Homo sapiens: one gene and its partners. The protein of the gene in region 1 interacts with the protein of each later gene in a pairwise test. Each region holds a gene or a part of one and is shown in the gene's direction. Other genes may lie near its edges. The genes, in order: SLAIN1, AKAP9, KIF9, RFPL3, ZNF76, EFHC1 and DMRTB1.

What was found.
Region 2: the proteins of SLAIN1 (region 1) and AKAP9 interact in a two-hybrid assay, tested with the Homo sapiens proteins (one large-scale study listed by BioGRID).
Region 3: the proteins of SLAIN1 (region 1) and KIF9 interact in binary tests that used the Homo sapiens proteins (3 or more experiments, as listed by UniProt).
Region 4: the proteins of SLAIN1 (region 1) and RFPL3 interact in binary tests that used the Homo sapiens proteins (3 or more experiments, as listed by UniProt).
Region 5: the proteins of SLAIN1 (region 1) and ZNF76 interact in binary tests that used the Homo sapiens proteins (3 or more experiments, as listed by UniProt).
Region 6: the proteins of SLAIN1 (region 1) and EFHC1 interact in binary tests that used the Homo sapiens proteins (3 or more experiments, as listed by UniProt).
Region 7: the proteins of SLAIN1 (region 1) and DMRTB1 interact in a two-hybrid assay, tested with the Homo sapiens proteins (2 studies listed by BioGRID).

Annotation. Positions count from the first base shown.
Region 1 is NC_000013.11:77,704,187-77,707,686, forward strand, and holds part of SLAIN1 (SLAIN motif-containing protein 1), read left to right. Parts: intron 1-3,500. UniProt on the Homo sapiens protein: Microtubule plus-end tracking protein that might be involved in the regulation of cytoplasmic microtubule dynamics, microtubule organization and microtubule elongation.
Region 2 is NC_000007.14:92,104,862-92,108,017, forward strand, and holds part of AKAP9 (A-kinase anchor protein 9), read left to right. Parts: intron 1-816; coding exon 817-902; intron 903-2,431; coding exon 2,432-2,561; intron 2,562-3,156. UniProt on the Homo sapiens protein: Scaffolding protein that assembles several protein kinases and phosphatases on the centrosome and Golgi apparatus. Required to maintain the integrity of the Golgi apparatus. Required for microtubule nucleation at the cis-side of the Golgi apparatus.
Region 3 is NC_000003.12:47,276,300-47,279,799, reverse strand, and holds part of KIF9 (kinesin-like protein KIF9), read left to right. Parts: intron 1-2,420; coding exon of another isoform or gene 2,421-2,425; coding exon 2,426-2,518; intron 2,519-3,500. UniProt on the Homo sapiens protein: Essential for normal male fertility and for progressive motility of spermatozoa.
Region 4 is NC_000022.11:32,356,550-32,360,666, forward strand, and holds the start of RFPL3 (ret finger protein-like 3), read left to right. Parts: upstream 1-1,317; 5' UTR 1,318-1,522; coding exon 1,523-1,895; intron 1,896-3,356; exon of another isoform or gene 3,357-3,702; coding exon 3,703-4,117.
Region 5 is NC_000006.12:35,290,735-35,293,609, forward strand, and holds part of ZNF76 (zinc finger protein 76), read left to right. Parts: intron 1-543; coding exon 544-669; intron 670-823; coding exon 824-1,003; intron 1,004-1,805; coding exon of another isoform or gene 1,806-1,819; coding exon 1,820-2,053; intron 2,054-2,146; coding exon 2,147-2,310; intron 2,311-2,875. UniProt on the Homo sapiens protein: May be involved in transcriptional regulation.
Region 6 is NC_000006.12:52,437,342-52,440,841, forward strand, and holds part of EFHC1 (EF-hand domain-containing protein 1), read left to right. Parts: intron 1-962; coding exon 963-1,250; intron 1,251-3,500. UniProt on the Homo sapiens protein: Microtubule inner protein (MIP) part of the dynein-decorated doublet microtubules (DMTs) in cilia axoneme, which is required for motile cilia beating.
Region 7 is NC_000001.11:53,458,204-53,462,198, forward strand, and holds the start of DMRTB1 (doublesex- and mab-3-related transcription factor B1), read left to right. Parts: upstream 1-1,195; 5' UTR 1,196-1,250; coding exon 1,251-1,827; intron 1,828-3,269; coding exon 3,270-3,442; intron 3,443-3,995.

The DNA of each region.
Region 1 (3,500 bases):
ATATACATAGAAAATATATATACATATGTTTTATATGTATATATACATAGAAAATATATGTACATATGTTTTATATGTATATATATAGAAAATATATACATAGGTTTTATATGTATATATACATAGAAACTGTATATACAGAGGTTTTATATGTATATATACATAGAAACTGTATATACAGAGGTTTTATATGTATATATACATAGAAACTGTATATACAGAGGTTTTATATGTATATATACATAGAAACTGTATATACAGAGGTTTTATATGTATATATACATAGAAACTGTATATACAGAGGTTTTATATGTATATATACATAGAAACTGTATATACAGAGGTTTTATATGTATATATACATAGAAACTGTATATACAGAGGTTTTATATGTATATATACATAGAAACTGTATATACAGAGGTTTTATATGTATATATACATAGAAACTGTATATACAGAGGTTTTATATGTATATATACATAGAAACTGTATATACAGAGGTTTTATATGTATATATACATAGAAACTGTATATACAGAGGTTTTATATGTATATATACATAGAAACTGTATATACAGAGGTTTTATATGTATATATACATAGAAACTGTATATACAGAGGTTTTATATGTATATATACATAGAAACTGTATATACAGAGGTTTTATATGTATATATACATAGAAACTGTATATACAGAGGTTTTATATGTATATATACATAGAAACTGTATATACAGAGGTTTTATATGTATATATACATAGAAACTGTATATACAGAGGTTTTATATGTATATATACATAGAAACTGTATATACAGAGGTTTTATATGTATATATACATAGAAACTGTATATACAGAGGTTTTATATGTATATATACACACATAAAATATATACTTGTGTGTATACATATGTGACTGTACCATTTGTTTTTTGTATTATCTGCAAAAAGATGACTTTAGAACCAAATATTTTGAGAATAACTGAGACTTTGTTTTCCAGACAGTTGTCATACTTCATTGGAAACATTCAGGGTTATCATGGGCTTTATATTATTTTTGTTCTCCCAGCATAGAATGTGATGTGTATGGAAAAGAAGGGGTTCTATGAGAAGGATAGTAGTTTCTGGTGTGTGTGGTTTGGAAGCAATTTAAGAAAAGTTAAAGAAAATTAGAGTGACATTCCAAATAGTAGTTTGAAATGTATATTTCAAATATAATTTGAAGAATTCTGAAAATTTAGATTAAGACTTTTCAGATGCTCTTGCCAGAATCCAATATACCATTAATGAAACTACTGAAGTTGAAAAAAATGTTTATAAGTCACTAGAATGTATGATGTACTAATGATGGCCAGATAGGACATTGTAAATGTTACTTGCATTCTAATGACATTGAATAAAGTGATTTTTAAAATGACTTTTTGGAGGGTTAGAGCTATATAGGAGAAATACAGATTTTTTTTTTTTTTTAAAAACCTTGCCTATCTAATTTTGGAGCTGTGTTGTACTCAAGGAGTTTTTAGCCACATGATCTCTATAACTAGTTTTTTGTATTATCTGCAAAAAGATGACTTTAGAACCAAATATTTTGAGAATAACTGAGACTTTTTTTTTCTAGACAATTGTCATACTTCATTGGAAACATTCAGGGTTATTGTGGGCTTTTTCTTTCTTTAAATCCAGCTCTAGGCCAAGTCATAGAAACACTAGGCTCAAAGCTATCCTGCTCACTGTCAGGAGACTGACTCTGAAAATGATCACTTCTGTCTTAATGCCATACATTTGTATAGCACCTCAACAGTTTTATCAAAATAATATAATAACATGTTAGTAGTTTTCAAAACTCCCCTTGTTAGGCTTATTACAGGAAGCAGTCCTCTACTCCCTCCTCCTGCTGAGTCCTTCACATAGGCATCACTTTATACTCTACTAGCTGTTTCTTTTTCCTAAACAGTCTTTATACTTTTATGATCTTAGACATCTATGGACTTATTATGAAAGAAGAAAACTTAGCTCTCTTCCTCTCACCCTTGACTACCATATCTCTTTTCCCTTCTCATAATGGTTTTTATGGTTTTTCTTTTATATTTAATGTCTGCATTATGATTATAATTTACTAGCTAAGTCCTGTTAATTGCATGTTAAACATGTATTTTCTCTGACCCCTTTGTTCCTCCAAGAGTTAGTAATGGCACTTCTTCTCTCCTCTTCACTTTCTTTAATTACCTATCAGAAATTATTTCCCCAAACACGCTAAAGGAGCCATAAAATCCCTCATTAAGGTCATACACATTTGGCAGTCTGTTAAATCTGCTTTTTTAAAATTTATATTGTAGTGCTATCCCCTCTGAAACTCTTAATCTCATTGCTCTAGTTTTTACTGTTTGCCCCCTAAGCTGGATGCATACTGCTGTTGCCATGGGAACTCTTTCAGTTTCTTGGCAATGTGGATTCCCTTCTTCTTAAATCCTTTTCGTTTGTATTTTTTTTATTCTCTTAGGTGGGGCACAGCCTTCAATAGCTTTCTGAGAAAGGAGACCTGCAGGAGAGGCACACTTTGAGATCCTGCGTATTTGAAAATGTCATTGTTCTGCCCTTACATAAGATTCATAGTTGGACTGGCTATAAAAGTCTAAGTTAACCTTTCCCTCATGTTTGAAGGCACTGTTCCATTTTGTTCTAGCTTCTGTTATGTTCTAGCTGTTGAGTGCACTGTGTTTGGATATCTAATCCTTTTTGACTTTTTCTTTTGCTTCCTTTATTCCTAGTATTCTAAAATGTCATGTTGTACCTTGGTATGGGTTATTTTATTTAATATACTGGACATTCGTGCACACTTTCACTCTAGAATTGCATGGCCTGACTTCCACTCTGGAAATTTTCTTGCTCTTTTTTTTTTCTTCAAAATAACTTTCCAGTTTCTTTCTTTTCTTTCTTTCTTTTTTTTAAGAACTTGTAACAGACAGATGTAGGTCATTCCATCTGGCTTAATCACTTGATTTTCTTATCTGTCTTATCCCATTGCTAATCTGTTTTTATTTTGTTTTCAGGAGACTTCTTCAACTTGATATTCCAAACTCATTTACTGACTCTTTTGTTTTTGCTATGATAGTTTCATTTCCCAAGCATGAATAAACTGTTTTTTTCAATATCCATGTGTATGTGTGTGCTTGTGTGTGTGTGTGAATGTAACATTTTCTTTTAGATGATATAAATTATATTCGTCTTGACATTTTCATCTGTTCCCTGCATTGTTTTTCTCTTTGGTTCTCTTTACTCCCTCTACTTTTAGTCTCAGTGTTTCATGTAAAAGGAATATTTCACATATTTGGTGTCACTGGTTGTCTGTTCATACCCAAAGGAGGTGCCGAAGCCGATCTAAAGCTCTTAATGGATGGAGCTCCTTGGTGCAGTTTACTAGTGATTGGATGGGTAGCCAGGCCACATTCAAGCATCTCTAGGTCTTCTCTTGGATTCATCTTTTTCTCTATGCATAA
Region 2 (3,156 bases), on another chromosome or scaffold:
CAGCTCACTTTCTAGTGGGGAAGACTAATATGCACAGAACTTAGAATATAATAAGTAAATGGGAGGTCACAGGAGTTAGCTAGTAATTTTGATTAGAGGGATCTAGAGAGGCTTCATGAGAGCGGTGTAGAAGTTGTTATTGACATACTTCACTCTGCCCCACTTTTTCTTATCCAAGATTATGTTTATCATATTTTGACCCTCCTAAGATGGAGCCTTGGAACTGATTCAAAGTAAATCAAAACTGGTGCTCCAAAAGCTCCTTGGGCCAAGATGGGGAAGAAGGTCGTAACTTGCTGCACCTGGGTCATGAAGCTAACACTCCCATTCCTTTTGAAACCAACGTTTTTTTGTCCCTGATCAAAGGGACAAGAGCTTCACCCACCTTGCAGCATTCCCAGCACATTCTTATTGCCAATTTAAGGGTCTTTTTGTTCTCTTCTTATCTCATCTGCCCTTTATTCTCTGTTCTTTTCTCTTTTCATTACTTCTCACCCTTTCTTTGCCTATCTGCTTTTCCCATCTACTTTTGCCTTCCATCTCCTTATACCCCATTTATCCCTCAAGCTGGAACCTGATGCTGGCAATATAAGAGACCTCTAATGCCTCTTGGGAAGGGGATGAGGGGATTTTGAGTCCCTATTCTTCCGTTCCAGTTGATTTTGTCACAACAGGCATTGACATAGTTTAACTGGGCAATTGTGAAATTTGACATTTGTTCTATGTTCATATTTAAACGTGTGATGTGATTTTTGTAGGAAATGTATATACTGTTTATAGATGGGCTGTGAAATTTTATCTTGGAATCTTTTTTAGAATGAAATTTTTGGTTCGACGGTGGCATCGAGTCACAGGTTCTGTTTCCATCAATATTAACAGAGATGGCTTTGGACTGAATCAAGGTGAAGTCAAAATAGCATATTTTCTTATGTTTATGACTCTCTAAATCAGAGGTCCCCCACCCCCAGACTATGGACCATACTTGTCTGTGGCCTGTTAGGAACCAGGCCGCACAGCAGCAGGTGAGCAGCGGGCATTACTGCCCGAGCTCCACCTCCTGTCAGATCAGCCGTGGCATTAGATTCTCATAGGAGCACAAATCCTATTGTGAACTGCACATGTGAGGAATCTAGGTTGTGTGCTCCTTATGAGAATCTAACTAATGCCTGATTATCTGGGGTGGAACAGTTTCATCCAGAAACCATTCTGGCCCCTTTGGGTCCATGGAAAAATTGTCTTCCATGAAATGTGTCCCTGGTGCCAAAAAGGTTGGGGACTGCTGCTCTGAATTACTGCATGTGTAATACTTACCAAGTAATGAATTCTGGAAGCAATGTTTTCCAAAGACAAAGCCCTTATAACTGCCAAAACTAGGTAACTTCACTGTTTTAAAGAGGGTAATAATAACTGATTTTCATGGAGAACTTAGTCTGCACCTGGCCATGCTCTTTTCATGTATTCTCCCAATCCTATGATATAAGTACAGTTTTACTACTCTCACTTTTAGATGAAAAATCGAGGCATGGAAAACACAAGTCATTTGCCCCAGAATGGCCAGTAGGGAAGTGATGGAACCAGGACCAAACACTGGCAGTCTGGGTCCAGAGCCCACACTCTTCATAACTGCATTTAAGGCACGGTTCAAGACAGGATTGCTGTTAGTCATATGGAAGAATTAGGAAGTTTTCATAATTTAACAATATTCAAACAAGTTTCTGAGTTTACCAACAGGTTGTATAATAATGGTAACAGCTAAAATTCCTTCTGTCTACACCTAGAAGTGGAAACAAACTAGGGCTTGAACATTTCTGGCAATAAAGATGAGGTCCGAATCTGGGGAGCACACAGAGGACACAGCATCCCTGTGCTGTGTATTCATAGTAAACCACCTTTACATACTCTACCAGGAGCTGAGCATCCTACAGAGGGGAAATAGATTTGGTACCCTACACAAAGTATTTTGAAATATCATTACACTGAAACAGCTGAAATTTGTACCATAATAAGTTGTGTTTTATTAAAAGTTAGCAAATCTTGGTTTCAAGTCAGTAGATTGGAATGGTTACATTGGTCTAATATTTTTTATCCACATCATTTCCCACAAGCCACACCCACTCAGACACCCCTCACCTCTCATCTACTTAGAGCTAAGGTCTTTAAAGAAGAAAATATGCCAATTAAATAATTTTCTTTGAGACATAATTCCAGATATCAGAAATACTCATATTCAAAAGTAAACAAAATAACATTTGAAAGCCGAATTTTTGTTTGTACTGTTTTCTCCTTTATCAAGAATAATAGAAAATGACTATAAATAGGAGATTGTATAATATAGTATAATAGTCTTTTGAGCAGTTACCTATTTTGTAGAAATTTTTTAAGGTCTTGGGATTTTATTTTTCTTTACAAGGAATATTTTGGGTTACTTTAGGTGCAGAAAAGACTGACTCATTTTATCATTCTTCTGGTGGGCTGGAGTTATATGGAGAACCAAGACATACTACGTATCGCTCAAGATCAGATCTGGACTATATTAGGTCCCCTTTACCATTTCAGAATAGGTAAGAATATGAGAAAACCTGCCTGGAATTGTTAAATGTATTAATATTTAACAGAGATAAATGGACATTTTTAGGGCTTTGACTTCTTTGCATTGAGATAGACATCTTTGTTATATATAATTTACATAATATGACCAAGTGCGGTGGCTCACACCTATAATCCCAGCACTTTGGGAGGCTGAGGCGGGCAGATCATGAGGTCAGGAGTTCAAGACCAGCTAGTTGGAGACTAGCCTGGCCAACATGGTGAAACCCTGTCTCTACTAAAAATACAAAAAATTAGCCAGGCGTGGTGGCAGGCGCCTGTGGTCCCAGCTACTTGGGAGGCTGAGGCAGGAGAATGGTGTGAACCCGGGAGGCGGAGCTGGCAGTGAGCTGAGATTGTGCCACTGCACTCTGGCCTGGGCAACGGAGCGAGACTCTGTCTCAAAAAAAAATACAAAAAAATTAGCCAGGCATGGTGGTGGGTGCCTGTAATCCCAGCTACTCAGGAGGCTGAGGCAGGAGAATCGCTTGAACTCAGGAGGTGGAGGTTGCAGTGAGCCGAGGTCACGCCACTGCACTCTAGCCTGGGCAACAAAGCAAGATTTGGTCT
Region 3 (3,500 bases), on another chromosome or scaffold:
TAAAAATACAGAAAAATTAGCGGGGCTTGGTGGCGGGCGCCTGTAGTCCCAGCTACTCGGGAGGCTGAGGCAGGAGAATGGCGTGAACCTGGGGGGCGGAGCTTGCAGTGAGCTGAGATGGCGCCACTGCGCTCCAACCTGGGTGATAGAGCGAGACTCTGCCTCAAAAAAAAAAAATAAAATAAAATAAAATATTACCATTATTTAATGTACTTTTTAAAAAAGCAAGATAATCTAATTAAAAGTAGTCCCTGTTATACATGAGGGGTTTTTATGGTTAACATCTTAAAAGTTACTTAGATTTTTTGATTTTTTTTTTTTTTTGAGACTGAGCTTGCTCTGTCACCCAGGCTGGAGTGCAGTGGCATGACATTGGCTCACTGCAACCTCCACCCTCCAGATTCAAGCAATTCTCCTGTCTCAGCCTCCTGAGTAGCTGAGATTACAGGCGCTTGCCACTACACCCAGCTAATGTTTGTATTTTTTTTTAGTGGAAACAGGGTTTCGTCATGTTGGCCAGGCTGGTCTTGAACTCCTAACCTCAGGTAATCTGCCATCCTCAGCCTCCCAAAGTGCTGGGATTACAGGCAAGAGCCAACGCACTTGGCCCACGTTAGTTTTTTTTTTTTTTTTTTTTTTGAGATATGGTCTCACTCTGTCACCTAGGCTGGAGTGCAGTGGTATGATCAAAGCTAACTGCAGCCTCAGCTTCCCCAGGCTCAAGTGATTCTCCCACCTCAGCCTCCTGAGTAGCTGGGACTATAGGCATGCACCACCATGCTTGGTAATTTATTTATTTTATTTATTTATTCATTTATTTATTTTTTGGAGATGGAGTCCCTCTCTGTCGCCCAGGCTGAAGTGCAATGGCGCGATCTCAGCTCACTGCACCCTCCACGTCCCAGATTCAAGCGATTCTCCTGCCTCAGCCTTCTGAGTAGCTGGGATTACAGGCGTCTGCCACCACAACTAGCTAATTTTTGTATTTTTAGTAGAGATGGCATTTCACCATGTTGGCCAGGCTGGTCTTGAACTCCTGACCTCAGGTAATCCACCTGCCTCGGCCTCCCAAAGTGCTGGGATTACAGGCCTGAGCCACCGCACCTGGCTGCCTGGCTAATTTTTGTATTCTTTATAGAGATGGGTTTTCGCCATGTTGCCCAGGCTGGTTTCAAACTCCTGGCCTCAAGGGATCTGCCCACCTCGGCCTCCCAAAGTGCTAAGATTATGGTATGAGCCATTGCACCCAGCCAAAAGTTAGTTTTTTTTTAAAGCCAAGCCATGCGCCTGTAGTCTTAGCTACTTGGAAGGTTGAGATGGGAGAATCACTTGAGCTCAGAAGTTAAAGGCTAGCCTAGACAACATAAAGAAACCCTTGTCTCCAAAAATAAAACAATGAAATAAATGTTAATTTTTTAAAAAATATTGAACATCGGCTGGGTATGCCTGTAATCCCAGCACTTTGGAAGTCTAAGATAGGAGGATCACTTGAGGCTAGGAGTTCAAGACCAGCCTAGGCAACATAGTAAGACGCCATCTCTGCAAAAAAAATGTAAGAAAACTAGCCGGGCACAGTGGTACGCACCTGTAGTCCCAGCTACTGGGGAGGCTGAGGCAGGAGGATCACTTAAGCCTGGGAGGTCAAGGCTGCATTGAGCCATGATAGCACCACTGCACTCCAACCTGGGTGACAGGGTGAGACTCTGTCTCAAAAAAAAAAAATGTATGTATATATGTCCTATGTCTTCCTTTATTTATACTACTATATATATGTATATGCACACGCATACACACACACACACACACTGAAAGAAAATGATGAGAATATAGTTAGGTTTTAGGAGAGCAAGAGGAGGTAGGGGACTGTCTGTGATATTTTTTCTCAATATAGTAAGAGAAGAAAGAATATTTATTATGGACCAAATATACGTCTGGGTCATCTATTTCTGATCTAGTTAGTCTACTGGAGAAGAGGATGCTGTATCTGAAGCAAGATAAGTTAATGAAAAGAAAATTAGTTTTAATGTATTTCATAGTAAGTATTTTAGAAGAAAATATAATAAATGAAGGAAAGCATAAGTGGACTCATCATCTTAGTTGCAGAACATTTCTAGAAATGACATCTAAGATTAGGCCACTAAAGGAAGCATTCTTTTCACTTTGTATTTCAGTCTCTCTGGGGTCATTGGTGGAAAATGGCAAAGCAGTCTGTGAAGCAGAAAGTGCGTGTATTTGTTGAGCAGTGTCTTGTGGGTAGAACACTGAAATGCTGAGGGGTGAAAAGGAAAACTGGCTTTCAGGGAGAGAGGGAAAAATGGACTGCTCGTCACTCTTTTCTGATCTTCTTAATGAATGACCCCTCTCCTCTACTTGTTATTTGATAATGACTACTCAAAATTTCATTGTTCCCTTCTTTTTAGCTAGAATGGGTACTAGGAAAAAAGTTCATGCATTTGTCCGTGTCAAACCCACCGATGACTTTGCTCATGAAATGATCAGATACGGAGATGACAAAAGAGTAAGTGCGATGTGTTTGCCTTCAACTGACTGGGCCTCTCTGTCCCACCTTGCTATAGTGTGACCGTATTTCCAAGCAACCTTTGAAGGACCAAGACAGAATTGGACAGGATCCAATGGACTCTAGAGCCCATCAAATCCAAACCACCCCCTCACACACTGCTAATGAAGAAATTAATAAAATCCCATCGTTAATTGTCTTTTAATAATTTTACCTTTAATAAATTAATAAGTTTACCTTTACCCTCGTATCTGACACAGAAGAATTGACATTTGTTCACATTCATAAAGCTTTCTAATGATTGATCTGTCATTGTATAATCGCCCATGGGGTGCAGTAAGAATATCTTGAGTTCATTACTGTTTAGCTTATCAAAACAGCTGGAGAAATACTTATCAAGAGAAGTGGAAAGATATATCCGTCCCTATATCCTCACCCTGAGAATGCTTCTGAAGGCTTAGGACAGTGTAAGAGTGTTAGATATTTTCATTCAGCAAACAATTATGGGCCTACTCTGGGCAGCATTGAGACATTCTTCAAAGGAAAAATTCAAGGGCAAACTGCCCAAGCCTCGCAGGTCCTAGCGGTCAGAAAAGAGCTCACATGCAGCCCTATCAAATGTGTCCTGCTGGACATGGTTTTCAGCGAACACAGAAGCACAGAGCATTTAATGTGTGAGTGGACCAAGTCTTTCTTTCTTTCTTTTCTTTTTTTTTTTTTTTTTTTGAGACAGAGTCCCACTCTGTTGCCCAGGCTGGAGTACAGTGGCACAATCTTGGCTCACTGCAACCTCCGCCTCCCAGGTTCAAGCGATCGTCCTGCCTCAGCCCTGCTAGTAGCTGGGATTACAGGCACGTGCCACCATGCCTGGCTAATTTTTGTATTTTTAGTAGAGACGGGGTTTTGCCATGTTGGCCAGGCTGGTCTGGAACTCCTGACCTCAGGTGATCTACCTGCCACGGCCTCCCAAAGTGCTGGGATT
Region 4 (4,117 bases), on another chromosome or scaffold:
GAGGATATTTATTAAGGGTTTACTGGTACAAGGAGAGGGGCTGGATGATTTGGGGTGGGAGGGGATCTCTGTTCTGGGATCCTGCAGCTCCAGGCCCCCATGGGTGGGGTGAGGGTCAGGGACCTAAGAACATTCTTCAGGGGCCACTGTCTTCTCCACAGTGCTCTCTTGTGTGTGACCTTACAGCTGTAGCTGCTGCAGGACCTCCACTGGTCGGGTGTCAGGCTCAGGTCGCTTCTGGCTGTGTGCTTGTTGCTCTGTTTGGAGGTCTTGGTGACTTCCGTACCCTGGGTGACAGGGGTGCTGTTTGCCTTCCAGGCCACCGTCACAGCTCCCGGGTAGAAGCCACTCATGAGACACAGCAGTGTGGCCTTTTGGCTTGGAGCTCCTCAGAGGAGGACGGGAACAGAGTGACCAAGGGGGTGGCCTTGGGCTGGCCTGTGGGTGGGCGAGCGGCAGGAGGTCAGCATCCTGTTGTGTACCTGGGAGCCCCCTGACCTCAGTGTATGAAGAGGGGTCAGGCCCCCTCAGTGCCAGTGTAGGACCCCTCAGACATGGTCCACAGTGTCTCAGAAGGGTGTGACATGAGGTTCCTAAAACAACTCTCTGTCATTCAGGGAACCTCCGAGCCTGTCCCCTGCCCACCAGTGGTGGCAGTTAATTTGGTATTCATTTCCAAGGCTGGAGAAGGATGTAATTTTTTTTCTTTTCTTTTCTTTTGGTGAGACAGGGTCTTACTGTGTTGTCCAGGTTGGAGTGACCTGGCGTGGTCTCTGCTCACTGCTAATTTTTGTATTGTTTGTAGAGATGAGGTCTTCCTGTGTTGTCCAGACTCGTCTCAAATTCCTGGGCTCAAGGGATCTTCCTGCCTTGGCCTCGCAAAGTGCTGGGATTACAGATGTGAGCTACTGCATCCAGCCCCCTTTTTTTTTTTTGAGATGGTGTCTCACTCTGTTGCCCAGGCCGGAGTGCAATGGCACAATCTTGGCTCAGTGCAACTTCTGCCTCCCAGGTTCAAGCGATTCTCCTGCCAAAGCCTCCCAAGTATCTGGGATTACAGGCGTGTGCCACCACGCCTGGCTAATTCTTTTGTATTTTCAGTAGAGATGGGGTTTCACCCATCAGGCTGGTCTCGAACTTTTGATGACCTCAGATGATCCACCCACCTTGGCCTCCCGAAGTGCTGGGATTACAGGCATGAGCCATCGTGCCCAGCCTCTCAGCTCCTAATTCTTATGTTCATCAATCAGTCTCTTGCTGGGGTTCCCCTAGGAGGTGGTGAAATGACCCCAGCTCGCTGTTCCTCACATGGGTGCTGCCACGTCACTGGCTCAGGCTCAGCTGCTGGGTCACCAGGAGAATGGACCCTTCCTCCACCTCAGCTCAGAGCACAGTGATGATTCGTGACTTTCCCAATAGAACTTCAAATCTCTGAGGACGGGGGGTGGGGGGATGTGCTTGAGTGTTTGTACTCATGGTCTTGTTCTCGGAGTGACAAAGCTGGAACACAATACCTCTATGCATGAAAAGGTTGTCACTTGTCACAACTAACAGGCTTTCACCTCAAGGAAATTTTCTTCCCTTGTGTACTTTTCCCCTGGCAGTGGACATGGCTGCACTCTTCCAAGAAGCAAGCAGCTGTCCCGTCTGCTCAGACTATCTGGAAAAACCAATGTCCCTGGAGTGTGGATGCACCGTCTGCCTCAAGTGCATCAATTCGCTGCAGAAGGAGCCCCATGGGGAGGATCTGCTTTGCTGTTGCTGTTCCATGGTCTCTCAGAGGAACAAAATCAGGCCCAATCGGCAGCTAGAGAGGCTGGTTTCCCACATCAAGGAACTGGAGCCCAAGCTGAAGAAGATTCTACAGATGAACCCAAGGATGCGGAAGTTCCAAGGTAAGGAATCTGTATACCCTGCCCCCTTCCCAAGACCAGACCAGGAAAAATCATCTGTGCAGTTGGCCCCTCATTCCACATGGGGATTAGCTGCTGTCTGGCACCTAAAATTGAGATGCTTCATCATCACATTCTCAGCCCTGACAACACATAGAATCACCTGGTGATGTCAAAAACAAAAACAAACAAAAACCCGATGTCTATGTCATGGGTTAGACAAGGGATTCTCTAAACTTAGTGTGCTCAGATTACCTGGGGATCTTGTTAAAATGCAGATGCTGAACTGGGAAGTCTCAGGATTGATCCCGCTGGCTTGGGGACTTTGCTGAGTAGCAAAAACATAGAGCAACTGAATTTGAATTTCTCTCTAGCAAAGGTTCCCATGAATCTGACATTAAGATGGGCCTGGTATTTCTAATGCACAGTGAATATTGGCACCCATTGTACCAAACAACCTCACCCCAGGGTTGAGAAGAGTTGGGAATGGAGCACCTATGGTGTTTGTTTCTGTGAGTGGGGAGAGTTGCAGATATTGGTCTCCTCATCCATGCGCCATGGGCTCCAACAGTGGTCCTGGCTACAGAAAATACTATCACTCTCCATAACTCTGGGGAAAAGGGACATTTAAATGAAAAGGTTATGGTCAGCCTGGGCAAAGAATTACACCTATAAATGGTGGTGGGCCCCTATAATGTCCCTGACACTGGTAGCTTCTGCCCTGACACCCATGATCTCTACTCATCCATCTACCCATACCTGACTGTCTCTCTGCTGAACTATGGAGGACAGAGATTCACCCTGTCCAAGTCATGTTTGGAACCCTCTTCCTCCTTCCTTGTCCATGTCCATTCCCTAATTCACCATTAAATAGCAATCAATCCCTAGTCTTGACTAGGGTAGTCTTACTGTGATCTATAAAATCTATATTAGTGATCATATCAGTTTTTTGACTTGAAGGATAATATATTTTGTAGATTTTTTTTTTTCAGAATGTTCTGGACAATTAATTTTCTCTAGGCCAGATCACACTGCCTCCTCCATGAGAATTGGCGGCTTCACCTGTCAGTCACATACCCAATGCCTTAAATTATTGACCTTTGTATTTTCTGCCCTTATTCTCTACAATCAGTCAGTTATGACAGACAACTTTCAAATACCTTTCTCTTGGCTCCAAAATTTACCATTGTTTTGCTTAAGGTCTCACCTTCCATGTAGGATAGAAAACATTCTTTCATCTAAAAGGTCCCCCTCCTCCACCTGGCCTTAGAGCCTCCTAATGTCCAGGACCAGCATCTCTGTCATCACATTGTCAGCTGCAGAGATACCCTATCTGCTGTCAGAACTGTGCACAATTAATTTGTTTACAAACATGGAAAACAAAAGCCTGGAATCATGCTCTATATACTGAATTGGAGCAATAAAATGTGGAAGCAGAAACATATTTAATATTGACCACTTGCATTGTCTTAATTATCATTTATTTGTTCACACATCAAGGTGGTAGAAAGGGGGGCATGGTGTCTGCCTTCAGAGACCCTCCACTCTAAATGAAGAAAAGTTCAGTGAAGCAAACACGTGACGTAAAGTAAAATAAGAATTGCTACTGTGAATAAGAGTCACGTATTGCCACAAAGCATACCTATGAAAATTTGAAATAGGGAAGTTTCCTCATGAAAAGTTTTGATTTTGGAGGAAGAAACAGAATTAAAGAAACTAAAGTCAGGAGATATTTGGGCCTTTGAAGTAGAAGAGAGGCATGGGGTTGGCTTCTGTCCACTTGCTGAGCAACTTGTTTTCCTTTTCACAGTGGATATGACCTTGGATGCCGACACAGCCAACAACTTCCTCCTCATTTCTGACGACCTCAGGAGCGTCCGAAGTGGGCTCATCACACAGAATCGGCAAGACCTTGCCGAGAGATTTGACGTGTCCGTTTGCATCCTGGGCTCCCCTCGCTTTACCTGTGGCCGCCACTACTGGGAGGTGGACGTGGGAACAAGCACAGAATGGGACCTGGGAGTCTGCAGAGAATCTGTTCACTGCAAAGGGAAGATCCAGCTGACCACAGAGCTTGGATTCTGGACTGTGAGTTTGAGGGATGGAAGCCGCCTCTCTGCCAGCACGGTGCCGCTGACTTTCCTCTTAGTAGACCGCAAGTTACAGCGAGTGGGGATTTTTCTGGATATGGGCATGCAGAACGTTTCCTTTTTTGATGCTGAAAG
Region 5 (2,875 bases), on another chromosome or scaffold:
TGCTTCCAGTTGAGGGTGGAGGGTTCTCGTTCTGTTTGGGACCTCTCTGAAGGGAACCCAACACCAGGCTGCTTTCCTGGAGAAACTACCGTCAGAGTACTCTGACTTGCAGGGTGCTCTCTCTGGAGGAAACCTTGTTACGGGAGTGCAAGGCAGCATGGTTCAGGCCAGCAGAAGGAGCCTGGAGGGTTGGTGGAGAGACCCAGCCTCTTGTGTCAGCTCTGATGCCAACCAGCTGTGGATTATTGGGTGGGCCATTGCATCTCTCTGGGCTTATTTTCCCCTCTGTGAAACTAGTACCTTTAGCCATGAGTTCTCTAAGTTTCTTTTCATGCTCATGTTCTGGTATGGCTCCAACTGCTCCTGGAGAGGGAAGCAGGGCAGAGTGGGCTTTTCCAGCCCCTGCCCAGGGCAGGGGTGGGATAGAGGCAGACATGGGCTTCTTGAGCCAAAGGAGGTGGAGAGCCTGTGCATGAGGTGGACGGTGGAGGATGAGACCCCACTGGGTGCTCATCTCACCCCCTGCCTGCCACATATGGACAGGCTATGGACTGAAGAGCCACGTTCGTACCCACACTGGTGAGAAACCATACAAGTGCCCAGAGGAGCTGTGCAGCAAGGCCTTCAAGACCTCAGGAGACCTGCAGAAGCATGTCCGTACCCACACTGGTATGCTGGGCCCTGCCCACTCCAACCCCATTCCCTGGGCAAAAGGAATTCAGCTTGCCTTTCAGACTTAGACCTGGAGCCCAGTGCCATCCCCAGCTTGCTCCAGCATGGCCCTCTTTCCCACACCCCTCCTCACATCCCACCATTTGCATAGGTGAACGCCCGTTCCAGTGCCCTTTTGAGGGCTGTGGCCGCTCCTTCACCACATCTAACATCCGCAAGGTACATGTGCGCACCCACACAGGCGAGAGGCCCTACACCTGCCCGGAGCCCCACTGTGGCCGCGGCTTCACCAGCGCCACCAACTATAAGAATCACGTGCGCATCCACACAGGTGGGCTAGCTGGCATGCGAGGACTACCCTCACTCAGGCCCCAACCCCTCTACTGTAGGCTTCCCATCTAAGACACATTCCCAACTCCCAGCCCAGAACCCTTCTGTGCCAGCCATTCCAGGCTGGTCTGGGGGTAGGGTATCCCCAGAACAACTCTGCTTGCAGTGAGTAATTCCTCAATTTCCAGTTAGGTCCAATCTGAAAGGTATTGCCAGTCCTCTCTGGGGTCCCTCAGCTCCCTACCACCCCTCTACACCCACCCTGAGTTCTCCAACTCTGACTGAACTCTTGAAAAGAGGCCAGGGTCAGGAATGATGGGGAAGAAGCAGAGTGAACTGTCACCTTCAACTCCTCACCTTATCCGCCGTCCATGACTCCTGTGTATCCTCACCCTCCCCAGTGTTATGCCCCTCATCCAGCTTTCTGTGTTGTGTCTCAGCATGTGTGTCCCCTCTTTCCCATCACAACTGATACTTCAGTCATCCTTGCCTCTTGCCTCTGCTGTTCACCATTCTCAACCTCCCACCCTCAACCTTATAAGCCCCAGTGCCCCCTACCAGCCCCTTCACTAGCCCCAGCCTTGCCCTGTCCCCCGTTTCCTTTCCGCCTTGTCTCTGGATTCAGTGGTTCAACACCTGTGTCCTCTCTGTGTTCCACTGGCCATCTTCCCCAACCCTGTCCATTCAGAGTCTCAGGTCTCAGTCCCTCTCCCTCCCTCTGGCTCTCCCTTCACCAACCCTGTCCCTCACCCCTGTCCCCTTAGTTTCCCCCTTGCCAGCCCCAGTTCCCACCCCCCTCACAGCCCAGTGTCCCCAGGGGAGAAGCCATACGTTTGCACGGTGCCAGGCTGCGGGAAACGCTTCACCGAGTACTCGAGCTTGTATAAGCACCACGTGGTGCACACACACTGCAAGCCCTACACCTGCAGCACCTGCGGCAAGACCTACCGGCAGACCTCCACCTTGGCCATGCACAAGCGCAGTGCCCACGGCGAGCTGGAGGCCACGGAGGAGAGCGAGCAGGCCCTCTATGAGCAGCAGCAACTTGAGGGTAAGGGGAGTGGGCAGAGGGTGAGAGTGGGGACAAGCCAGGCCTCCCCATGGCATCTGGTAGCAGATGTCAGCCTTGGCTCTCCTCTCCCAGCCGCCTCTGCAGCCGAGGAGAGTCCGCCACCCAAACGACCCCGGATAGCTTACCTTTCGGAGGTGAAGGAAGAGAGAGATGACATCCCAGCCCAGGTGGCGATGGTGACTGAAGAAGATGGGGCCCCCCAGGTGGCTCTGATCACTCAGGATGGTGCCCAGCAGGTACAGGCCCTGGAGGGCAGAGGTGCCATACTAGCTGGCACTCTCCACTCTCTCTGGGGACTCTGGGAGCCCTGAAGTTCTGACAGCCCCACTGCCACCCAGCTTCTTGTTTAAGTTTTATAGACTTCAGAGGCTGAGGCTGAGGAGACCACATCTTGCAGCACAGCCTCTCCTCCTCCTGTGCTTCCAGCTCAGTCTCTGGGGCTTCTAGAGCACAGTTAGTAGTTTCTCTCTTTACTTGGAGGCTGACAGGTCCTGTTCATCTGAACAGGATATGGGATGTCCTTCTCAAGAGAGGCATGTTCATATAGCAGCCAGAACATGGTATGGGGTCTGAAAGCCTGGGGTCTGGTCCTACTAGTGTACTAGCTAGCTATATAACCTGACCCTTGTCCGTACCCTTGCTAGAAAGTACATCTGTGCTTTCTAGAGTTGTTAGGACACAATCAGGTGGCGACCCTGAGCTGGATACAACAGGGCCCAGAGGCAAAGTGGTGATAAATAGAAGTAGTCAGTGGAATTCTTCTAGTGTGGCCTCTCTTTGCAACCTTGGACCCATTTTGTT
Region 6 (3,500 bases), on another chromosome or scaffold:
TAGTAGAGTTAAGTCCTTTAAGATGTATTCTCACCAAGGAACATATGCAATAAATAGTTTATACACATTGTGAGTATTTAAAGCAGATGTCAGCAAACTTTTTCTGTAAAGGGCAGTTAGCGTATATTTTGGCCATTGCAGTGGTTTTAGCCTGCGTAGTCTGCCACAACAAAATACCACAGATTGAGTGGTTTAAATAATAGAATTTATTTTCTCACAGTTCTGGAGGTTGGAGGTCCAAGATCAAGGTGCCAGCTGGTTTGAATTCTGGTGAGGGCTCTCTTCCTGGCTTGCATACAGCGGTCTTCTTGCTATGTCTTCATGTGGCCTTACCTTGGTGTGTACATGTGGGAGTTAGGGGAGGGAAGTAACTCTCTTTCTCTTCTTCTCTTCTAAGGCAACCAGTTCTATGGGATTAGACTTAAAGGTGGCATACCTCTATCCTTAAGATCTGGTTTAACCTTAATTACCTCCTAAGGATCCTGTCTCCAAATATAGTCACATTGAGGGTTAGGGGTTCAACATATGAATTTTGGGGATGAGGGGGACACAATTTAGTCTGTGTATCTCTGTCACAACTATTCAACTCTTCCCTTGTAATGGGAGAGCAGCTGTTAACAAAAAAGCGTAAATTATTTACATAATTATTTGTGGATTGAAAATTTAAATTTTTATAATTTCCATGTGTTATGAAACATTTTTTAAAATTTTTTAAACCATTTAAATATGTAAAACCCACTCTTAGCTTGCAGGTCATAAAAAAAACAGGTGGCAGGTTAGATTTGTCCCATGGACTATAGTTTGCAGTATCTGTAGTTTTAGAGTATCAAGATTTACAGGATAGAAGTGATGAGTGTTAAAATCTCCCTGTGTGGTTCTGTTTTCAGGAAGGTACTTGATATTTTTCAGATGACTATGACAAGCTAATAGTACACCATTTCTCCTTTCCTTGTATGTTATAGGTACTGAAATTTGATGCCTATTTCCAAGAAGATGTTCCTATGTCAACTGAGGAACAGTATAGGATCCGTCAGGTGAACATTTACTATTATCTAGAAGATGACAGCATGTCTGTCATAGAGCCTGTTGTAGAAAATTCTGGAATCCTTCAAGGCAAGTTAATAAAACGCCAGCGGCTAGCCAAGAATGACCGGGGTGACCATTACCATTGGAAAGACCTAAATCGAGGAATAAACATCACAATTTATGGCAAAACTTTCCGCGTTGTTGACTGTGACCAATTCACACAGGTATAGCATATATTTTTGAAAGTTGTGGGGTCTGAGGCATCATTCTAATTTATAGAAGGATACATTTCATTTATTAGGGTAAGGGGAGGACATTGGTAATCTGTCCTGCATGAATTATTATGAATGGCTAGGTATTTGCATGTGTGTATGTGCTAATATGTGCCAACACTAATAGTAACATAATTTTTTCAGAATGATATTAATACTTATTCACTCAAAATCAAACTCTCATCATAGCTGAATAATTTGGTAAGAAACCAGGTTAAAATGGCAGTTCAAACAGGGAGTAGGGGAATAGCATCCCTGCTGGGATGTAAGTATGGAAGAGGGATTAAACGTTTTATCTTAAGTGTGAGTTTACAAAAATAGCACTACTTCTATTAGCAGATATGAGCCTAAAATTTTTTGTGTAGCTCATATATTTTTGGTAAATGATACTTGCTATATTCTAGGAAAGCTTACCATCTAAAGAATTTCTGAAATGAAACCATTTTTAAATGAAAAAACCTCTTCTATATGTAAAAAGTCCTCTATTTCGTAAGTTTGGATTTTTTAATACAAAGGAAACTTTTATTAAAGTTACATGCATAGAGGATATAGGTGGCCTTTCTTTACTACAAAGTGTAGGAATTAGGAAGTCAATTCCAAATTTGTCTTAGTTAAAAAAATATTTCTAGCAGCAAAGATATAGTTTCTGAAGTATTTTATGTCCCTATTCCAGGATACCTAGTGCCATATGTGACTAATTTTTACCATGCACTGAGCTCCTATGAATCCATTATTGTTTTCATTTAGTAGTTTGTTTAACAGATATTTATTTGCATGCCTGCTTTGTTCCATGCACTGTTCTAGGTGCCAGATGTTTTCAGGAAGGTACTTGATATTTTTCAGATGACTATGACAAGCTAATAGTGCACCATTTCTCCTTTCCTTGCATGTTATAGGTACTTGCCCCTATAGAGGTTCCAATCTTGTTGGAGGAGATAAGCAATAGCAAATAAATAGATTGGTTATATGTCAGATGATGATAACAGCAATGGAGGAAAATAAAGCTGAGTAAAGGGAATGGAAGTTGAGGGGCTCTTTATAGAGGCGGATCAGAGAATGCCTCAGTGATAAGATGACATATGAATAGAGGCCTGAAGGAAGTAAAGAAAGGAGCCATGGCATCAGTGCCATTCCAAAGCAATAGAGAAAAATAGCTTCAAAAGTAGAGGTGCTAGACCATCTTTGAGATATTCTCCCGTTCCAACATATTTTTATCTCTTTGCTTTTTAGGTGTCTGAGGTCTTATATATCATAGGCAGTTTCACAATTGTACCAACAGTGAGAAATGATAAAATGTTATCTAAACATAAATGTATTAACAATTATTTTTACAGTTGTGTTTTCATAACAATTATTTTTACAGTTGTGTTTTTATGGGCAATTTGAACATTTGCAAGTTAATCACTGAGCGTTTGACCTAATCTATTTATAGTCGGTTCTCATTATTGACAGTAATTAGGACTATAAAGTCACCACAAACACTGAATTAGTGAATACTGAACCACTAGTCTTAGAGGAAATACAGGGTTAGGTTCCCACTAATCTCTGGCCACATTTTTGTCAACTGATCAATACATAAGTTTGATTCATGTATGTTTCTGTTTAAAGACACCTTATTTAATATATACGGTTGATTCATTAACATTAAACTCACACCCAACAGCACTATAACTCACGTCTGAACAAAGCTTATCTAAGACATGCATTTTCTCCATGAGGTGTGTTACAGCCTTCTTGTGCTTAGGAACACTAAATAGCACTTCATCACTAGGCACTGGGACCCTTTAAACAGCAAAATCACCAACAAAAAACACAAAAATGCAAAAAATCTGGCACCTTCATGTATATGTATATGTATGTGTATATGTATCACATTTTCTTTTTCCAGTTTACCATTGATGGGCATTCAGGTTGATTCCATGTCTTTGCTATTATGAATAGTGCTGCGATGAACATACTTGCGGGTATGTCTTTATGGCAGAATGATTTATATTCCTTTGGGTATATACCCAATAATGAGATTCCTAGGTCAAATGGTAGTTCTGTTTTCAGGTCTTTTAGGAATCACTACACTGCTTTCTACAATGGTTGAACTAATTTATACTCTCATCACCAGTGTATAAACATTTCTTTTTCTCCACAACCTTGACAGCACCTGTTATTTTTTTACTTTTTAATAATAGCCATTCTGACTGGTGTGAG
Region 7 (3,995 bases), on another chromosome or scaffold:
GGCCGGTGGATCACCTGAGATCGGGAGTTCAAGACCAGCCTGGCCAACATGGCGAAAACCCCGTCTCTACTAAAAATACAAAAATTAGCTGGGCATGGTGGCGGGCGCCTGTAATCCAAGCTACTCAGGAGGCTGAGGCAGGAGAATCGCTTGAACCTGGGAGGCGGAGGTTGCAGTGAGCCAAGATCCTGCCACTGCACTACAGCCTGGGTGACAAAGCAAGACTCTGTCTCAAAAAAAAAAAAAAAAACAAAAAAAAACAATTAATGCCCTCGGGTAAACTATGACGTTTGTGCTAACTTTTCAGATGTCCCAAGATTTGGGTTGTTTTACAAGGATAACGAAGTTCATGATGAGGTTAAGCAATCACTGAAGCTAGTGCTAGAAATTTTTTTTAATTTAATTTTTTAGAAAGAGGGGTCTTGCAGAATTTTTTATTTAATTTTTTAGAAAGAGGAGTCTCGCTATGTTGCTCAGGTTGGTCTCCAACTACTGGGCTCAAGTGATCCTCACGAGTAGCTAGGGCTACAGGCACAGGACACTATGCCAGGCTTAGTGCTACAATATTCTGTCTATTTTACTTTAAAATATTCTAAGTATGCTCACTTTGGAAGGCATCAACATCCAGAAATGCATTCCTACATCAAGACTCTCAAGAAACGGGAATTACTGTAAGGGCATACCCTTGAGCAACCATCACACTGCACTGAACTCTTGAGAATATTCTGGAATATCCTGGAAGCATCTCTGCAGGGCAGAGAAGTGAACTGCCACAGAAGGAGCAGCTTTGGGGAGAAGAAATACAGTTTGCCTCTTACAGTATTTTTCTACACCGAGAGCTACATTCCTCCCGAGTTTTAAATTTGTGGACCGTTGAATATCACTCCGCCTTTCATAAAGTTACAAATACCTTCCGTCGGTGGCGGGAACAGAGTTTGGAAAATTACATGCCTAAGACTTCAGATAAGCTAAATGACATACATGCAATAGCATCCCATGAAGAATTTATTCAACCCAATCCATTGCATCTAATTACCCAAAGCACAGAAACTCTCCAAACTGTGCACCCCCCAAAAGGAGGGAAAATGCAAGGTTCCTGCTGCAGTTCCCGGGACACACTGCGAGCCGCTTTGTTACAAGTGTATCCAATGTCCCCAGAACGAGGGACTTGTGGGGCGCGGCTCATCCCAGCGCCACTTGCTCTGCAGCTCCCAGAGGTGGTGGTTGTGTTACGAAGGCTGACCCTGCCAATGGCCGACAAAATGGTGCGCACCCCCAAGTGCTCGAGATGCAGGAACCATGGCTTCCTGGTGCCCGTCAAGGGACACGCGGGCAAATGCCGCTGGAAGCAGTGCCTCTGCGAGAAGTGCTACCTGATCTCCGAGCGCCAGAAGATCATGGCCGCGCAGAAGGTGCTCAAGACGCAGGCCGCCGAGGAGGAGCAGGAGGCGGCCCTGTGTGCGCAGGGGCCCAAGCAGGCCTCCGGGGCTGCGGCCGCCGCCCCCGCCCCCGTCCCCGTCCCGGCCGCGAGCCTCCGCCCGCTGTCCCCGGGGACTCCCTCCGGAGACGCCGACCCGGGACCCGAGGGCCGCGCGGCCGCTTGCTTCTTCGAGCAGCCCCCGCGGGGCCGGAACCCCGGCCCGAGAGCCCTCCAGCCGGTTCTGGGCGGCCGCAGCCACGTGGAGCCGAGCGAGCGAGCCGCCGTGGCGATGCCCAGCCTTGCGGGACCCCCTTTTGGGGCGGAGGCCGCAGGCAGTGGCTACCCTGGCCCCCTAGACCTGCGCAGGCCGATGCGGACCGTGCCCGGCCCACTGTTCACCGACTTTGGTAAGTCGTGGCCTTGGTCCCGCGGTCGACTCCCGGAGCTGGCAGCCCAGGCCAGCCCGGATGGGGAGCTGGCATAGGGGTTCGGGGTGGAGAGAAGTTTTTCCACGGGTAACGGACCTTCCGCTTTGAGAAACCCTTCTTCGAACAGGGATTTGGATTGGGTAACTTTTCGCAAAAAGGAAACGAGAAACAGAAAGGAATGGGCGGTTCAGAGGGCTTTTAACATTTAGCTGTAGTTTGTGCCATTCCGGCATGCAAGAACAAAATGGCGTCCAGTCGACTTAGCAGTGCTTCCTCCTCCGGGGGAGGCTTCGAGGAGCCGAGTCCTACTGCTCTTGCGCACCTCTTCCCGCCATTTCCTTGGGCTGGAGGCTCCTCCTCCAGAATAACAGAATTTTCCTGCCGGCACGTTAGCGCAAGGACGCCTGCGCACTCTTCCCTCCCGGTTCGCGGTCGGGAGGCTCCTCCCCTCAGCTCCGCCCTGGCCCAGTGCGCCTGCGCACCTCTTCCCTCCGTTTCCCCACGTGCAGGTGAGGGGAGCCTGCTTCTTTACTCCACACACGAGAACAGTTGGTCAGTAAAGATGTTGCCTTTCTTTTCTCCCTTCACCTTGTACATAAATTACATTGTTCCCTGTGCCTTGGAGCTTTTGGTATTGAAGTAGTTTCAAGTCACATGTACATTTGAAGCTTTAGAAGCCCCGGGGTTTGGTGCGGACGCGTTTTCCTGGTGTCTCCCCCGTGGTGGTGTGGTGGGACGGGCTCAGGCCGAGGCGGGGGCCCGGGTCACGCTGGACAAGCTCCTGCCCTCTGTGTGCCAGGGCACTGGTCCGGAGGCTCCCGCAGGCTCGTCCCGCCCCCCTGACTTTCCAGGAAAATCTAGGTCCCCAGGGAACGTCCCATCTGACAGGGTCACAGGCCTGAAACTGCAGATCTAGGAGAAGCCACCTTTCTTTTTTCCATCTCAACAGACAAGCAGGGCTGAGCCGAACCATGAGCCAGGCATTCGTGATGGAGGACGCGGGTCACATTTCTTGCCCTCAAGGACCTTGTCCTTGTGGGAGGGACAGGGTTGATCAAAGAGTCACACAAATCAGTGTCCAGGGCTTGAGCCATGGCCGGGTTCACTGTGACCCGGAGGAGGAGGAGGAGCTCGGCACTGAGGCCTCAGAGAGGCAGAGTGCGGGCTGACGGTGTGTGGGGCAGCGGGGAGGTCTGGAGGCGGCCCCGGCCCACAGCGGGCTTGATGGCCGTGCTGAGGACTTTCCAAGAGCAGTGGGGCTGGCTGGAGGATGGAGATGCAGTGAGGGCCCAGCGGAAGGAAGTGCGGGGTGGGCTTTCTGTGCTTGGACGGCAGCGCTGATGACCCCGCCGCCCTGGGCCGCCCTGCGGATGCTTTTCCCAGCGGTGTCTAACACTTCCCTCCTTGCTTGCGTTCTTTAGTGCGCCCTCTGAACATCAACCCGGACCGTGCACTGGGCCCTGAGTACCCTGGTGGCTCCAGCATGCACCCCTACTGCCCGTTCCCGCTGGGCTACCTGGACGCCCCTCCTGGCGTCCCCCTGCAGCAGGGCTTCCGGCATGTGTCCCGCAGCCAGTACCAAGGCGGAGGCTTGGTGAGTCCCACCCCTCACTTCTTGCCAGCTTCCTCCACCCAGTCTGCCCCTGCTGCCTTGATGGATCCTCAGTCCCAGGAAGCCAGCTGTCATAAACTGTGCCCACGCCATGCCAGCCCCCGAGTGCTGGTGGAGGACTAGGCACTGCCCAGGCACAGTGTGTGTGTCTCTGGGAGCACACGTGTGGACCAGTCTGCACCACTCGGCTTGGGCTATGGCCTGTGCTTTTCAGGGCAGTGGGCTGAAAGGCTCTGAGCGTTCAGGATGACCCCTTCCTTGACTGATGCTGATGCTAGAAGGGCCCTTCATTTTGCTGGACTCCAGAAAGGGCATATCACCTTCCTGGGACCACAAAATTTAGGGCAGAGCCAGGACCAGAGGTAGGCTCCCTGCCCACAGGTATAGCACACTTGAGACTGCAGAGGGCTTTCAGGAGGAGGTGGCATTTGAGCGGAGTCATGAAAAATACGGAAACCTTCCCCCAAACACTTGACACCTTAGGAAATACCTGTTGAAAGAATGAAATTTAATCCTTTTATAAGATTAATAAAGG